Linked DNA regions of Homo sapiens: region 2 is linked to region 1. The links come from fine-mapping of genetic effects on gene expression. A gene starts in region 1. The other region holds a variant in brackets. All regions are shown on one strand. Distances are from middle to middle.

What was found.
Region 2: its variant is fine-mapped to the expression of MIR600HG in skeletal muscle (GTEx, PIP above 0.99).

The regions. Positions count from the first base shown.
Region 1 is chr9:123,111,804-123,120,409 of GRCh38, forward strand. MIR600HG (MIR600 host gene) reads right to left here and starts at 3,674. Exons shown (of 1, transcript NR_026677.1): 1 at 1-3,674. It also overlaps a transcript of STRBP not described here. RefSeq lists an enhancer at 156-305.
Region 2 is chr9:123,307,485-123,316,090 of GRCh38, forward strand. All of the region lies in intron 1 of LOC105376265 (a long non-coding RNA gene), which reads right to left. Among named protein-coding and RNA genes, the nearest start is that of STRBP, 43 kb to the left of the region's middle. The variant G/T (reference allele first, on the strand shown) is at 4,067.

The DNA of each region.
Region 1 (8,606 bases):
CATAAGAGCCTGAGAGCTACTCCATGTCCATAAGAGAGAAGACCAGGCAGCAAAATCCGAGAGGCACTTCTGTACCAGAGGGAGCCCGACAAGTCTAAAGACAGCAGCCACCCAGGGGCAACTCTTCCTTCTGTATCCCTGACCTGATTATCAGAGATTAGCAAAACACAACTTCACCGAGAGGAAGCAGCACCCAGTTTCTGAAGTTTGCAGTGGCTTCCTGCCTCTCCAGGGCCTGCCAGGCTGCTCAGAGCACAGCACACCTCCCTCCCGCCTTTCCCCACACCTGGCCCGACTGTGCTGGGGCAGCAACGTAGCCCTCGCCTCCTGACTCAGTCCCGGAAGGCCAGAGACAAGGCTGGGCCCCGTGAAAGGGAGTCACAGTGCAGCGCTGCCGGCCTGTGGCTGGTCCCGCCTCGTCAGCATCCTGGGACAGCCCTGTGTGCAGCTGGCCACCACCTCCCAGCTCAGGCAGAGGGGCAAGTGCCTCCTCTTCTCCGAGCTGCATGTGATCCTCGCCTGCCCCGCGGGGCTGCTGGGGCTTCGCTGAATCAGCGCCTGTGGAGGCGCTTCTATCAGGCCATCTTTCTCCAGCCCTAGCCGCCCCTTCGCAGCGGACACTGTGCTCCTATCAACGCACGGCAGCGCCAGCTATTCCCACCTTCTGTTCACGTCAGACTGGCAGCAGCTCACGTCCCTGGCACCTCTCCGATGCTCTGAACGGCAGCTCCCTTCAACGTGCCTAGAAACCCCTCTGAGAGGAAAGACCATGCTCAGCAGAAAGCGCTACAAACACCCCAACTACACTGAGCATTCCTCAATGCAGCCACCACGTCTGATTCACCTCAGTCCCCTACGCCTGACGTCGGGCCCGGCCCAGAGCAGTCCACCCCCAGGGGTAGTTGCTTCCACCTCCCTTAGTAGCTGGCAGCCTCTGGAGACGAGAGGCCAGCACCTCTGCTTCTCTGAGGCCTGCTGAACACGGGCCTAGGGCATGTACAAAGGAAGCAATCTGCTCCATAGAGCGTTCCCGCCATGTGACTTGATTCTGAAGCAAGGGGCAGTCAGTCCGTCCCCGCCCCTTTACCTTCATATTCTGAGGCCCCAAGCCGAACTTAGATTGGAGACAGAATGTTTCATTTATCCTGCCCTCGTACGTGAATCTTTAGGATAGCAGGAAAGAAAACGCCTGAAGAAGGAAGATTCTGTAAAGCTCTGTCATGTCAAAATAAAGGTGGGGTGCTCACTGACTATAAGCCAATGGTCAGAAAACCTGTCCAACTCTCTGGGCCTCTCTTCCCCACTCTAATACCAAAAGTACCTTGACCAGGAAGTCCAGACTAAACGGAAAGGCGTAACTTACAACCACAGACATGGTCCTCCATAGCCAGTGACATTTCTAATAAGCATTTGTGATCACATGACCCTCCTGAGCACAGCTGTCCAGTGGCTCCCTACAGCCCAGAGAATCCAGTCCACACCCCTGAGCCTGGCCCTCCTGGTCCTTTACGAGCAGACCTCATGCGCCTGTGTGACTATGCAGGCCTCCTCATTGTTTGACACAATCTCATCCGTTATCTGGTCCTGCTTCCCTTCCTGGAGAACTGCAGCCTCCTCGTCTAAACCCGACTCCGGAGCTGCCTGCCTTCAGGGCTTTCCTGATTCACCCTCAGCCCTTCTCTTTGAGATTCTATCACCTGGGACTTCCCTGAGCCCTGTTCTGTATGATGCTCTTTAGCCACCTGCTCTCCTCTTCCAATGTCCCACGTGTCACTCAAAACCTAAGTTCCATATGGGCAGGAACTACATCGTCCTGTGCATTGAGCCAGTGCTCACACGGAGGAGATGCTCAGGAAGCCTTTGTGGGGAGGTGGATGGATCCAGGCAGTGGATGGGAAGGAAGTTTCCAGTCATGATTAAGCCAAAGGGTAAGTCATCTCTATAGTCTAAGGGGTTGGTGAAATACAGCCAAGTTTGGCAAAATACTCCCTACTTTGCAGGGGTTGGCAAACTACAGCCCTGTGTATTTGTAAGTGAAGCTTCATCAGAACACAGCCATGCTATCTATTTACGCACTGTCTCTGGCTGCTTTTGTGCTACAGTGGCAGAGCTGAGCAGTTGTGGCAGAGACCACATGGTCCATAAAGCCTGAAATGCTATCTGGCCCTTTACAGAAAGGATTTGTGGACACAGGGCTAAGGCAGCGCTTCCCATATATTTTCACATTTCACCTCTTTAGAGGTGAGATTTGTGTAGCCTGTTGATTAACAGTGAAGGCTGCTTGCAGCTAAGAGACACCTGGCCTTGGAGCTCTGGCCACCCAAAGGCTGACAGGATCCGTGTCCACAGCTGCCACCTGAGCCACAGTCCCCAGCAGAGCTGTAGGAAACAGGTGCAGAAACCCATGCTGGCCTTCAGCTCTCCCCGTCCATTTCAAAGCAAAAGTGGCAGCACTGGGACAGACACAAAACTGACACCCAAAACCAATCCTCCGGTCACCTCACAAGTTCATGGTCCTTTCCGTCCTTCAAGAACTTGGGAAAGAATGTCCACGTCTTCCCATGGGCTACAGACTGTGTTCCACAGATGCTGAATCCAACAAGCTCCAACCCTTGCTTAGGTTAAAAATGAACACAAATGGATTAACTTTTTGCCAAGCAAAAGGCCTCAGCATGAACAACCACCCGGTACCTGTGACTCCTGGCTGGAGAGCCCAGCCCGGCGGAAACTCAGAAAGGGTGAAGATGCTGATAGGTCACAAGCCCCTCCCCACTGCCAATGGAGATGCCAGAGTGCTCCAGCACAATGGAGTGTGGCCCACCAAAGCCCCATTTCCTAGCCCGGTGGAGATGGCCCTCGCTCCATTCTACCTCCTCTGTACCCTGTCAGTATCTTCCTCCATTCCCCTGCCTTCCCCCGTCCTGGTCAGAAACACCATTGTTCCCTCTATTGCCCACTGAGCAGTGGTCCAGGAGAAGTACTCCAGCAGGTCCCCCGCCCCCGGATGGGTGCTATTGTTCCTTGGCCCAGGGTTGGGGGCCATCATCTTCCCGTCCCTACCCAATCCGGCAGAGGAGCCTGGCCTGTGAGGAGATGCCATTCCTGCCTCTCCATCCCTCTGCTGCTGCGCTCCATCAGCCTCCCTCACGCCTCGCCTGGCCAATGGCAACAGCCTCTTGCTCATCAGCCTTGCCTCCTGACTCTGGTCCTTGGCTATCCAACTGTCCCAATCGACCCTCTGGAACTCACTATTGTGGACAATGGTCATCATTGAAGGACACACCACCCAGGGCCTTTTAAGAAGTGACTGCAGACTGTGTGTCCCACCTGCCACTTGACTCTGCTCATCCTCTCGGGTCCCACAGCAAGGCCCTTCACACTCCCCAAGTGGGCACACTCTCTCTGTGCATGCATGCCAGGCCCGCCTCTGACTCCCCTCCTGGGGATCCCGTCTGGCTCAGTGGGAAGCCTATCGCTCTTGGTAAATTACTCAGTAAGCACTTCTCTCCTGAGGCCTGGCTCCTCTCCTGCCCTCGGCGGGAGACCTGGGAACGGGCCTGCCAGCGCCCAGCCCAGGGCTGGCAAGGAGGATCCCTAGCAGGGAGGGGGAGACCCACTGAAGCCTTTCTCCCTGCACAGAGGAGGACTCTCATTCTGTTCAAATCCTCTGCACCTCTTTCTTCCCCTCCCTGTACTCTCCATCTGGGTCAATGATTTCACCTTCTACTCAGTTGTCTAAGCTGCAGATTCTGACATTTTCTCCAACTGCTCCTTCTCCCCCATCACAGAGCCTGGTAAGAAGCAGTAGGTGACAGTGAATGGTTTTTCTCAATAAATCTACGTGCCCAAGAAGGGAGACATGGTCTTGGCAGCATCACCAGTCAACATCAGAGTTCGTCCAAACTGACATTCCACAGCATTTCCTCTTTGCCGTCCACACAACCGGCTTCTTGCTTGAACATGCTGGTTACAGGGAGCTCATGTCGCACCTCAGCTGCTCTCTCAAGGCTGCGTCTGTCATCGCGGGAGGTGTATTTTAGCTCAAATTGCCCCACTGGCTTCCCATAATTGTCTTTCACCCTTTGGAACCACATACAACAAATAAATATAATCCCTTAAAAATACCTGGCAGGAGTGCCCACGTTCTCTCCAGGTCTCCTCTTCACCAGCCTTAACCTTCTGGTCCTTCCATCTCATTTCAAGGTGCTTTCAGCTTTCCTGAGTTCCCCAGGTGCCAATTTCCATAGGTTTTTTACCTCCCAGATGATGGCTACCATATTCCTTTAACGTAGCCTCTGCAGGAATGAGGGATTTTTAGAAAGCTGAGACTTCCGAGAAGTCTCATGATGGAAGAATCCAAGGGGATCCCAACACCAGATTGCTCTGGAAAATGTGTTACTGTGACGGTGATCCCATGGGTTAGAGCACATGTTTGAAGGCCGAGCCAGGAACGGAGGATGTGGCCAAAAACCAAAGTGTGGATGAGGCGGAACATAAAACACATACTTCCAACAGCACATCCCCTGTCCTCCTTCCCACCCCTGAGGAGCTCTCCAAGTAGCAATTACTGAATTTGCACTTTATTATAGGGTTCAGTTACAGTATAAAATGATGGTCTGTAGAAATTAACCCCAACTGTGTAGCTGGCAAAAAAGAAAACAAAACAAAAAAACAGGCTGCCTGGCCCAGGGCTGACCAGTTGGTCACCTTGCCCAGTAGCACACTAACAAAGGAACAGAAAAAGAACGAGCCCAGAAAGTCTGGATTTTAGGAGGCTAAGGAAGGATCAGGGAGATGTGGGTTGGTTTTTGCTTGGTTTCAAGGCGCACAGGGGATAGCCCAGAAGCCTACAGGAAAGGTGAGCCGAACACATCACAGAGAGAGAAGCCACTGCTGCCAAGTGGGCTTGGAAGACAGAACGGACATTGGTGCCTACTAGCGACGCAAACCACCTGCACACAGCATAGCCTCAGACGGGGTGAGCGCCGCCACTCACCGCACTATAATTTGGGGCAAGTCACCTTATCTAAGCATCTATTTCCTCATCTGTAAAAGGAGAAAATTTCTAATTCCAGTTGTGGTGAAATTCAAAACTAATTCCTCAGAAAGGGCTGCTGTTACCTCTAAAAACAGTCTTAAGAAATGTTATTTCTTCTGGTGGTTAAAAACTCATTAGGGGCCACAATGCTTTGCCACAAATAAGCAGTGTGGTTTGGAGAGATCTCTGGGCTCTACTCTCCCTGTCTGCAAGGTGGGAACAACGATCTATGCACTGCTGCTTCTCCAAGGGCCACCAGTACAGCAAGTCATGAAATGGCAAACGGGAAAGGGCCTGAGAGAGGACTGTGTTCTATGAATGCCAGGCGCTCATTCTCCCTGACACAGTCATGCTCTAGAACACGACAGCCTGGGATTCAAAGGTTCCTTTTTCCTGCTCCCCTCCAGGATTACAGCAGGGTGCACAGAAACATTGCCAAGTGCCCAGAAAGAGGATGACTTGGGGTGGATGAGGAATACTTTGTCCTGAAAAGGATCCCGCAGCCATCCCCGCACCCACCCACGCCTGAGCAGAGACCCAGCTGTCATTCATTAGCCCAGGAGCTGGTAAAGTGGTTACAGCAGCAGAAGAATCCAACACGCTCAACAGGGTGGTTCACAGGCAGCAATTTAGAGACCCCAAAGCCATCCAAGCAGGGCTTACCATACACGGGTCCAACTTGGAGGGAAGACAGCAAACTCCAGGCTGGCAGTCTGCCCTGAGGCCTACTCCAAGGGAAACTCCTGGCAATGACCACTGACCTCTGCAATCTGCCACCACCCATCTCTACTGAGTACTCGTCCAGGGACACCCCCTTGCACTTACACCTCAGACCTGGGCTGCTGCCCCTCTGTGCTCCTCTTCCTTGTACCCAATGAGCCAAAGCCTCACCAGCCTGCCTTCAGAGTCTGGCTTAAATTGTTGAAGACATCCTCATGACCTATCTCAGGCCAGGCAGAGAACATGCACTCGGAAAATATAAGCTAAGTGAAAACACATACCTCAGATTTCACTGAAATTCAAAGAAAAACAAGCTTTAGATAAAAATGCTTCCTCTGTGGATACAGATGCAATGCAGCCCTTCAGTCTGTCCTTCCAGTATGTTAAATCGTTCTTCACAACCAATTTAAATGAAAAGAGCCCTATTTTAGGCCAGGTTATCTGATCTGGAGTCACCTCAAGTCAGAGGGCCTAGCTACCAGCAGAGCCCATCCTGTCGGCCGCAGCCTTTTAATCCATAGCAGGATGGAATAGAAAAAGGCTTTAGAACAGAACTAGGTTCCATTAATGGTTCTAGCACTTAACCTGGAGCATCAGTTTCTTTTGTAAACTAAGGATACTACTATTGCCAGAAAGGTAGCTGGAGAATTCAGAAGAATGTCCAAGTGCCTGGCACACAAGATACAAATGTTGGCATCTCTCCTTCCCCTTCCCTTCCTACTCCTTCAGTCCACTGCTGCTCCAAATGACCTAAACTGAGGGCTGCTGTTCACCTCATTACTTGGGGCATTTAGCAGACACCTGCATGCAGACACCTTTTGTCCAGTGCTGAAACTGCCTGGGCAAACAGTGGCTATCTTCACTCTGCCCACCAGCAGGGTGGCACAGTTCATCTGCAGAAATGGCAAAGTTCTGCCAAGAGAGACCAAGACCCTCCTCAGAAGGAGTAAGTAATTAGAATGTTGACAACTGATCAGTCAAGGCAAAAAAGTCCTCCCTCAATGCTGGCTGAACAAGGCAAAGACTCCACCAAACAGCCTCCCCTGGGGGGAATGTACTAACTTTTGCAGGACATTAGCTAAACAAGTATTTCTTAGATTTAAGAAAAACCTCCTGACTACAAGCCAAATCTTATTTGCCTCCTTAAAGGTAACACTCAGTCCTTGTCTACGTAACGCAGTTTTTATAAACTTGGAGCATCTGAGGGCTCCAATCTATGTTCCCCACTTAGCTCACCTCTTACCAACAGCCAAGGATGCATCTGACCACCTTTCTGCAGAGGCTCCTGAAGTCTTTGTAGACACACAAAGGAATGGAAGATAAGACGTGCACCCTCTATTTAATCCAAAAGCATCAATTTCATCATGTACCCATTTTCCTCTTATCGAAAAAAAGCAACTTTCCAACTGTGTCCAGACAGTAAATGGATAGACAAAAAGAAAGACGAATAGATGGGCAGATATGTTTTCTCTAAGACTAATAGGCAGAAGGGAGGCCTCATATGGTGTTGAGTGCAGATTTTTCCCCCCAAAAGTATCAAAGCAAACTAGAAGAGACAAGCTATAGGAGTGCTTTTCACTGAAGCATCCTAGTCAACAGCCTTTTAAGCACACCAATCAGTTTCCTCCTTTCCTTTCTGTGCTTTAAAGGAACTTGCTTTCTACCTACTAAACACTGGTAAGCCCTGAAGGTTAGATTCCGGAGGCAGTTGTAACCAAACACCTTTTTAAAAAATTATTAATGCACTGGTTGGACACTTGGACTCAGCAGGTAGATATTCTAAGATCAGCCCTTATGAAGTTCTAAGCACCCTTAAATCCCACCCCCCGCCCCCCGCCAAAAAACAAGTATTTACAAACCCTTGGCAGCAGACTGGCTGGTAATTTAACTACTGTAACAGACACATGAGCAACTTCCTTAAGCTTGGATCTGCAGCAACGCCACCACACTAGCTCTCACCAGGTCTTTGGGGTGTGTTTCTTGTCTAACCCCTAGATACCAGGAGTCTTCTCCCAAAGCCTGGCAGCAGCTGACGCCTATCAGCACCAAGGAACCGACACAGCTCCACCCTGAGCAGGCCATGCACCTGCCTCTCCAACACCTGTTGGCAGAGCCTTGCCCTCCTCACGTTCATCCTCACCTCGGCCAACCATGGTAAGAACACTCAACATTCACTGAGTACGTACTCTGCACCAGGTACTGTTCAAAACATATTATGTGTATTAACTCATCTAATTCCTGAGCCCCATGGGAATGTGCTGGAAGGAGAGAAATTCTTTGGCCCAGATTCCCGCATGGTTTCTAGTCTCTATTTCTAGCTGTGCTGTAAAGCTTACATAACCTAATTTGCATTATGGTACTATTTTTAAAAACCTCCAAAGATCGCTGCTTCAAAGCATCAATGGAATCTGTTAGTTCCTACCTAAAATGATAATGTGGGAAAGGATATCTATTCTTACAACCAACTCAACTGGAATTCTTGACTTAAAACAGTCTTTTGGGAAGAGGCTATTAAGAAAGGAAGGGACTCATTCTTATATAAGTACTAGCTCTGTGCTCTGTAAATAAGGGCTAGAGAGAAACACATCAATATTGAAACCCACCTCAGCAGTAGTTTCTTGGCTCTGCTGTTGTTATCCATTTACCACCCATCTCCTTTCCAAGACTCCTAATAACACCGAGAAACCTGTGGTCACTGCACAGCATGGCGTCAGACTGTATAGAGTATGAGTTTGAATACACAGAACCTTTCTCATTCTGGATGATTCAGAGATAGCCCCCACCCTCTCTCAGGAGGCACTGGCATCAGATGAATGGGAATTAGGGGAAGACCATTCACAGAGCAGGT
Region 2 (8,606 bases), 200 kb after region 1:
TTTGGAATGAATAGAGAATCCTCCATGCAGTTAGGGTGGAAGGCACATAGGAAATACCAAAAGTATTGAAAAATTAAAAACCAAAAGCTACAATTGTTTTTGTCTTTGCAGAGTTGTCCAAACACATTCATTTCCCTGGTATCATGTGATCTGCATGACCTTATTATGGCAAAAGAATAGTAAACATTGCACCCTTAAAAAAAAAAAGCAGCTTCAATGAGATGTAATTCACAGACCATACAGTTCAACCATTTAAAGTGTGTAATTTGCCGGGCGCAGTGGCTCCCACCTGTAATCCCAGTACTTTGGGAGGCCAAGGCAGGAGGATCACTTGAGGTTAGGAGTTTGAGACCAGCCTGGCCAACATGGTGAAACCCCGTCTCTACTAAAAATACAAAAATTAGTCGGGCGTGGCAGTGGGTGCCTGTAATCCCAGCTACTCTGGAGGCTGAGGCAGGAGAATGGCTTGAGTCCAAGAGGCGGAAATTGCAGTGAGTCGAGATTGGGCCACTGCACACTAGTTTGGGCAACAGAGCAAGACTCTATCTCAAAACAGAAACAAAAACAAAAACAGGGTGTAATTCATTGAATTTTAGTATCGTAGTCCCCCTTATCTGTAGAGAATATGTTCCAAGACCCTCAGTGGATGACTGAAACTATAGATACCAGTAGACTTGCTTGTTCTGTTTTTTCCTCTTTGTACATACCTAGAAAAAGTTTAATTTATAAATGAGGAATGGCAAGAGGTTAACAACAGTAACTAATAATAAAATAGAACAATTTTAACAATAAGCCAGCATCACTACTCTTGCATTCTGCGGGCATTATTAAGTAAAATAAGGGGTTACTTAAACACAAGCACTACAGTATCAATACTGGCACTGATAACCAAGGCGGCTATTAAGTGACTTACAGGTGGGTGTTCATACAGCATGGAGATGCTGGACAAAGGAATGATTTGCATGCCAAGTGGGATGGGCCGAGACGACACAGGATTTCATCACACCACTCAGAACGGAATACAATGTAAAACTTATGAATTGTTTCTTTCTGGAACTTTTTTTTTTTTCAGATGGAGTCTCTCTCTGTCACCCAGGCTGGAGGGCAGTGGCGCGATCTTGGCTCACTGCAACCTCCACCTCCTGGGTTCAAGGGATTCTCCTGCCTCAGTCTCCCGAATAGCTGGGACTACAGGCGCCCGCCACCATGCCTGGCTAATTTTTGTATTATTAGTAGAGATGGGCTTTCACCATGTTGGCCAGGCTGGTCTCGAACTCCTCACCTCAGGTGATCTGCCCACCTCAGCCTCCCAAAGTGCTGGGATTACAGGTGTGAGCCACCACGCCTGGCCTGGAATTTTCTATTTAATATTTTTGGGCCACAGTTGACTATGGGTAACTGAAACCACAGAAAATAAAGCCACTTGCCCTGTTTTGTGTTTGCTTACACTCTTATTGCTCCCTGAGGTTTTTTTTTTTTTTTTTTTGAGGCAGGATCTCCCTCTTTCACCCAGGCTGGAGTGCAGTGGCGCAGTCATGACTTACTGCAGCGTCAACCTCCCAGGGTCAAGTGTTCCTCCTACCTCAGCCTCCTGAGTAGCTGGGACTACAGGCGTGCACCATCACACTCAGCTAATATTTAAATGCTTTAAATAGAGACAGGGTATCACTTTGTTGCCCAGGCTGGTCTCAAACTCCTGGGCTCAAGTGATCCTCCCACCTCAGCCTCCCAAAGTGCTGAGATTACAGACGTGAGCCCCACGCCCAGCCTCCCTGAACATATTTTATGAGTGTATTGTTTACTTGCCAGACTGTATTCACATAGTTGTTCTAATTTCGGAACATTTTTAAAAAATGAACTCTGTATCCATTAGCAGTCATTCCCAATTTCCTTTTTTTCCCAGCCACTGGCAAGCACTAATCTTCTTTCTGTCTCTCTGGATTTACCTATTCTAGACATTTTACATAAATGGAATCTTACAACATGTGGTATTATGGGTTGAATCGTGTCTCCCCCACCCCTACCAAATTCATAAATTGAAGTCTTAACACCAGTATCTCGGAATGTGGCCTTATTTGAAAACAGGGTCATTGCAGATGCAATTAGTTTAAGAAAGGGTCATTAGAATGGGCCTTAATCCAGTATGTCTGGTGTCCTTATAAAAAGGGGAAATTTAGATATGAAGATACACACAGGGAGAACATCACGTGAAGATGAAAGCAGAGATTGAGGTGATGTTTCTCTACACCAAGGAACACCAAAGATTGCCAGCAAACACCAGAAACTAGGCATGAGTCACAGAACATGTCTCCTTCACAGTCCTCAGGGGGAAGCAACTCTGGATACCTTGATCTTAGACTTCCAGCCTCCAGGACTGTGACACAATAAATTTCTGTTGCTTAAGCCAGCCAGTTTGTGCTACTTTGTTATGGCAGCCCTGGGAAACTAACACATAATGGTCTTTTGTGTCTGGCTTTTTTCACTTAGCATAATGTTTTTTTTTTCTTTACTTTTCTTTTCTTTCTTTTTTTTTTTTTTTTTTTTGAGATGGAGTCTTGCTCCATGGCCCAGACTGGAGTGCAGTGGCGCGATCTCTGCTTACTGCAACCTCCACCTCCTGGGTTCAAGCGATTCTCCTGCCTCAGCCTCCTGAGTAGCTGGGACTACAGGCGTGCACCAGCATGCCTGGCAAATCCTTGTATTTTTAGTAGAGATGGGGTTTTGCCATGTTGGCCAGGCTGGTCTCGAACTCATGACCTCAGGCGATCCACCCACCTCAGCCTCCCAAAGCACTGGGATTACAGGCGCGAACACCGTGCCCAGCTAGCATAATATTTACAAGGCTTTTTTCACTTAGCATAATGTTGTAGCCTATATTAGTACTTCATCCCTTTTTATGAATTAATAACATTCCACAGTATGGATGCAACACCTTTTATTTATCCATTCATCAGTCAATGAACATTTAATTGGTTTCCAGCTTTGGTTTATAATTTTAAAAGCCGGTTGCGCATGGTGGCTCATGCCTGTAATCCCAACACTTTGGGAGGCCGAGGCAGGAGGATCACTTAAGCCCAGGAGTTCAAGGCTACAGTGAGCTATTATTACATCACTGCACTCCAGCCTGGGTGACAGAGAGAGACCCCACTCCTAAAAAAAAAAAAAAAAACTGCCATGAATATTCATGTACAAGTTTTATTAAATTATTATTAGAGACAGGGTCTTGCTATGTTGCCCAGGCTGGTCTCAAACTCCTGTGCTCAAGTGATCCCCCTGCCTCAGCCTCAGTCCCCTGAAGTGCTGGGATTATAGGTGAGAGCCACTGCACTTGGCCCATGTACAAGTTTTTGCTGTATGTACACATATGTTTACATGTCTCTTGGATATATACCTATATTTTTGCTTTATGGGTGTGGAAACTGAGGCCCCAAGAGGTCACTTACTCAAAGTTACCAGCTAGAACTCAAACGGACTGTCCCTTTAACCTAAATGTGTTTGATTTCCAACTCAGAGCTCTTTCAACTATATCACACACACACACACACACACACACACACGCACTCACATGCATGTAAATTCATTCACACATACACACACCAGCACCAGTCAACAAACGCTCCTTTGAGCCCTTTGCTTTGTCCAGAGTGCAAAAGTTCAAGAGAGGCAAACAGAAGTGGCACGATGCTGAGAGAGATAAATGAGGCTTCCAAAGAATAAATAAGTCAGAACATTGATTTGAATATTACCAAGGGATAGACCAGAAACATTTAACGGATTATAAAGAGGTTAGTGAAGAGCGAATGGCCCAAATTTGGCCTTAGGAGCATGCACACCACTCATATTGATTGTGATGAGATTTCTGGAAGTGAACGCACTTTACCAGAAAAATAGTATGCAAGTCAAAGATGTTGCTGTGGAGAGAGCCGCACTGGAAATCAGGACATGGCCCTGCTCATGGAAGGCTGTGACCACCCAGTTATTTACTCCCGGAGAGCGGGGGCAGCTTACATCAGGAAAGTTGCTTACTCTCAGGGTTAGTACAGGAAGATTTGATTTCACTGTTTCT[G/T]TGAGTGAGCCGGATCAGAAGCTATTCTGAGCGTCCTCAAAGGAAATGTGCCAGAAATCATAAATAAAGAAGTCAAGCGCATCCAGTGGCCATATCAAATGTGACATTCCTGAAGAATATGGGAACATGCTATCTTTCAAGCTGCTGATTCTTAAAAAAGGAAAAAGTAGAAAATACCTTAGTCCCAGGGAACAAGAGAAGCCTCTAGAGTTAAAACCTAAACCGAGACAACATAATTCAGGATGTAAAGAGAAAAGCAGTGTTTATCAAAGTGCGAGACTCAGCCATTCGTTGAACATATCTTTATTTTTGACAGTCTCTGCACCAGTCACTCTGTCCCCACTGTTCTCTAGCCCCCGGCTCTGCTTTATTTTTTCTTTCTTACAGTAGTATTTTGTACAGGTTTATTGTTCCCTGGACACATTGTATAAGTGTATTGTTGACTTGCTTATTGTTTATCTCCCAGGCAGGAACTAAAAGTTCTAGGACAGAAACCTGTTTCTTCTTACTCACCTCACTTCCAGATGTTGGTTCCAATTTCCTAATTCACCCCCCTGGCTCCTTTGACCTCTTTCCAATCCATTTTCCTGAAACCAGGCTTGTCATTTCCCTGCTAAAAGTCTTCAGGGTGTCCCCTGGCCTGTGGGACCTTGAGGTTGCATGCTGAAAGGGGCCTGGGCTCCCCATTCTTGGCTACCTGACATCAGGAGGTTCCAGATGAAAACACTTTTTGACCCCCATCTCTGGCTTAGGGCATTTGACATTTTTCCAGGAGCTCTCACCTCTCAGGGCTACTCTCCCCTGATTTCAGCATACTCCCTTGGGTGAGAAGGAAGGAAGGAAGGAAGGAAGGAAGGAAGGAAGGAAGGAAGGGAGGGAGGGAGGGAGGGAGGGAGGGAGGGGAGAGGGAGGGAGGATTTTTTCACCATGCTTTGATTTAATTTGCTCAGCTACTAATCAAGGTGTTGCTCATCTCTCCTGGGACATATCCCTGAACTGTCCAGGCTGAAGGCAGATGACGCCTCGACTGATGCCATTGCATTGCAGAAGGGTCCTTCCTGCAGTCAGCCCCTGACAGTGCCCCCTCTGGGGAAGAGTGGGTCCAGGGACAGACGAGAGGAAGCACCTTGCTGAGTTGTGCTGACACTGGCCAGGAGTGGCCTCGCTCTGCTGAGTCATTGTATGGGGTATGTGTGGCTGCATTAAGGAATAGAGACCACTCTGGTGGCTGCTGTTGAGGATGGCCAAGATCATCAGAGGACAGGAAGCTAAGCCACCTGGCTACTCTCTCTGGAGCTCAGAATGGTGTTCAGGACCAGGAACATCCTTCAGGGGCCAGTGCCGTTCTAGTGTCCTCCAGGCTTTGGGGTGCCACCTGCCAGAGGCATTCTCTGCTCTAAGGCCCCTCCATCAGCTCCTCCACCTCCATGGCCCAGATGGGGCCATGGGTCCTTCCCCTGTCCACTAATGTCTCTCTCCTACCTTCATCCCACCTCCTGACTTCTGCTTCTACTTCTCATTTATTCTTAGCTTCCTCTTGCTACCTTCTGTATGTGTCATTTGGCTTCTGCCTTTGGGAAACCAGAGTCCTGCCTCTCTCCAGAGGCTCACTCTCAAACTCTGCCACAGAGGCTGTGTGGGCTCAGCTGGTCACCCGTACACCTGCAGTGCTGCCCCAGAAGTCACTACCCTGTTCGTGGGGTGGCTGCCTTTGCAACAAGCCCCTACCTTAATCCAGTGTGCAAGGGGTGGGTACATGGGTAGCTTTTTTCTAGAAGGGGCTTTGGGCATGGCAATTCCTTTTTTTTTTTGAGACGGAGTTTTGCTCTTGTTGCCCAGGCTGGAGTGCAATGGCATGATCTCGTCTCACTGCAACCTCTGCCTCCCGGGTTCAAGCAATTCTCCTGCCTCAGCCTCCCGAGTAGCTGGAATTACAGGCAGGTGTCACCATGCCCGGCTAATTTTGTATTTTTAGTAAAGACAGGGTTTCTCCATGTTCGTCAGGCTGGTCTCGAACTCCCAACCTCAGGTGATCCGCCCGCCTCAGCCTCCCAAAGTGCTGGGATTACAGACCTGAGCCACCGCACCTGGCCCCCATGGCAACTCTTAGAACATAATACGTCTTTCTCACAGCCAGCTGCTGCGGCTCATGCCTGCAATCCCAGTACTTCAGGAGGCCAAGGTGGGAGGATAGCTTGAGCCCAGAAGTTCGAGCCCAGCCTGGGCAACATAGGGAGACCCCCATCTCCACAAAAAATACAAAATTAGCTAGGTGTGGTGGTGTGTGTCTGTGGTCCCAGCTACTTGGGAGGCTTAGGCAGGAAGATCACTTGAGCCTGAGAGGTTGAGGCTGCAGTGAACTGTGATCGCACCACTGCATTCCAGCCTGGGTGACAGAGCGAGACTCTGTCTCTAAACAAAATTTAAAAATTAAAAAAAATACATCTTTTCCCAATATAGATGGCAAAGGAGCAAATGAGATTGTGGAGGTGGATATGCTTTGGAAGGTATAACATGCTGTATTGGTACAAAATAATATTAATTGTTGATAATTATTGATAATTAACGTAGCCATTATTGTGGCTACTAATGAAAGTTTTGCTTCCCTGGAACTTGTGGACCAAGGGCAGTGGTTACCAATGGCCATGGTCTTTGATTCCCAAACTCTTGCCAGGAAAGTTGCTGGGACACCAGCCTCCCTCTGCCACCCTGCATTAAAGCTGCTTCATCTAGAATCCTCTGAACCTGCCTCCCCATCTCACTGTTGCTCCTCTGGTGGCTCAGGGCTCCCCCCATCCCAAAGTACACAGATCTTCAGGCCCCAAAGATTCCCAGGTGCTTTCATTTCAGAGCTACTTCCACCAAGGACCCACAACCTTCCAAAGGGCTGGGACCAGCTTGCTCTTCTTCTCAGCCCTGCCCAGGGGATGGGCAAGAGGGTCATGGCTGCCCACAACCCCTAGTCCACATACTCCAGCCCCATGGAGAGAAGGACTCTTCCTCTATCGAAGTCTTAAATTCCAAATACATGACAATGGCTGATTGAGCTTGAGTCAGAGGTCCACACTGGGTAATCAGCTACAACCAAGGGCCATGTTGTACAAACATAGCTGCCAGGAGCCCACCTCTGAGACAGGGAGTGGGCAATGGTTGAGGGAGTCATTCAGGGCCAAGCAGATACCCCTGATGAGGTCCTTTACACCAAGGAAGCTGGCGTACATCAGAGGGCTTGGAGCCTGTCGCAGTAACACGCTGCCACTAGATCTCTCCTAGCGCCTTGGGTTTTCTCTACTGTGGAGCTCTACTGTGTAGGAGACAGTATTCCGTGTAATGGAATTCCCCACAAAAAAATTCATGTAATGTGGCATTTACAACTCAAATGATGCCACAGAAGGGTTGCATGTTATGGTCAAAGTCAAAACCGGTTTCCCTCTGGCAATGTGGTGTGATTGGTGAAGATTATTTTTAATTTTTATTTTATGTATTTATTTATTTTTGAGACAGAGTCTCGCTCTGTCGCCAGGCTGGAGTGCAGTGGCACAATCTCAGCTCACTGCAACCTCCGTCTCCTGGATTGCAGTGGCACAATCTCGGCTCACCGCAACCTCCGCCTCCTGGAGTGCAGTGGCACAATCTTGGCTCACTGCGACCTCCGCCTCCTGGTTCAAGCGACTCTCCTGCCTCAGCCTCCCGAGTAGCTGGGTCTACAGGCGTGCACCACCACACCTGGCTATTTTTTGTATTTTTAGTAGAGATGGGGTTTCACCATATTGGTCTCGATCTGTTGACCTCGTCGTGATCCACCTGCCTCGGCCTCCCAAAGTGCTGGGATTACAGGCGTGAACCACCGCGCCCGGCCGATTGACGATGATATTAAAGAAAGCCTAAGCAAAACCAGCTCCCAGGACCTGTTGCCACCGGAGCCACTCCCCTGGTTCCAGGTGCTGGGCCTGTGCTTAGTCAGGGCTTGGTTAGTCATAAAACAGAAATTCACTGAACTCCTGGGAGTGATCACCTGTTGCTTTTGCCTATTTGGATTCTTTTCCCATTATTCTGAAAACGGGCCCTGTGATTTCTTTTTTTAAAGGATTCTTCACCCTATCTTAGTCTGTTTGGCTTAGGTGGGCCTGACCCCAATCCTCAGATACAGAGGTAAGTACATGGATTGCAATAGGTCAAGGGGGTCGTGTGACCCAGTCTGGGCCAAAGACAGTCAGCCCTGTGACCTTTTCCAGATGAGCCAATGGGTCAGCAGAAACCCTGGTCTGCAGAGTAAAAGGACCAGATATGCAGAGAAAAGCAGAAATGGGATATTGTGTGGAGGAAGAACGAGAGAGAGAGAGAGAGAGAGAGAGAGAAATGGAGGCAGAAGCAACCTTCTCATTCCTGTGATTTCTGGTTATTCTTTCTATAGCAGGAGTCCATGTGACTTTCCCCTTTGCTTTCTAATGACCTCCATTTTTAGTTGAAATTCTCTATTAGTCAAGATTCATTCAATTTTTACACTACAGGAACTCAGATTAAATTAGTTTAAACAAGA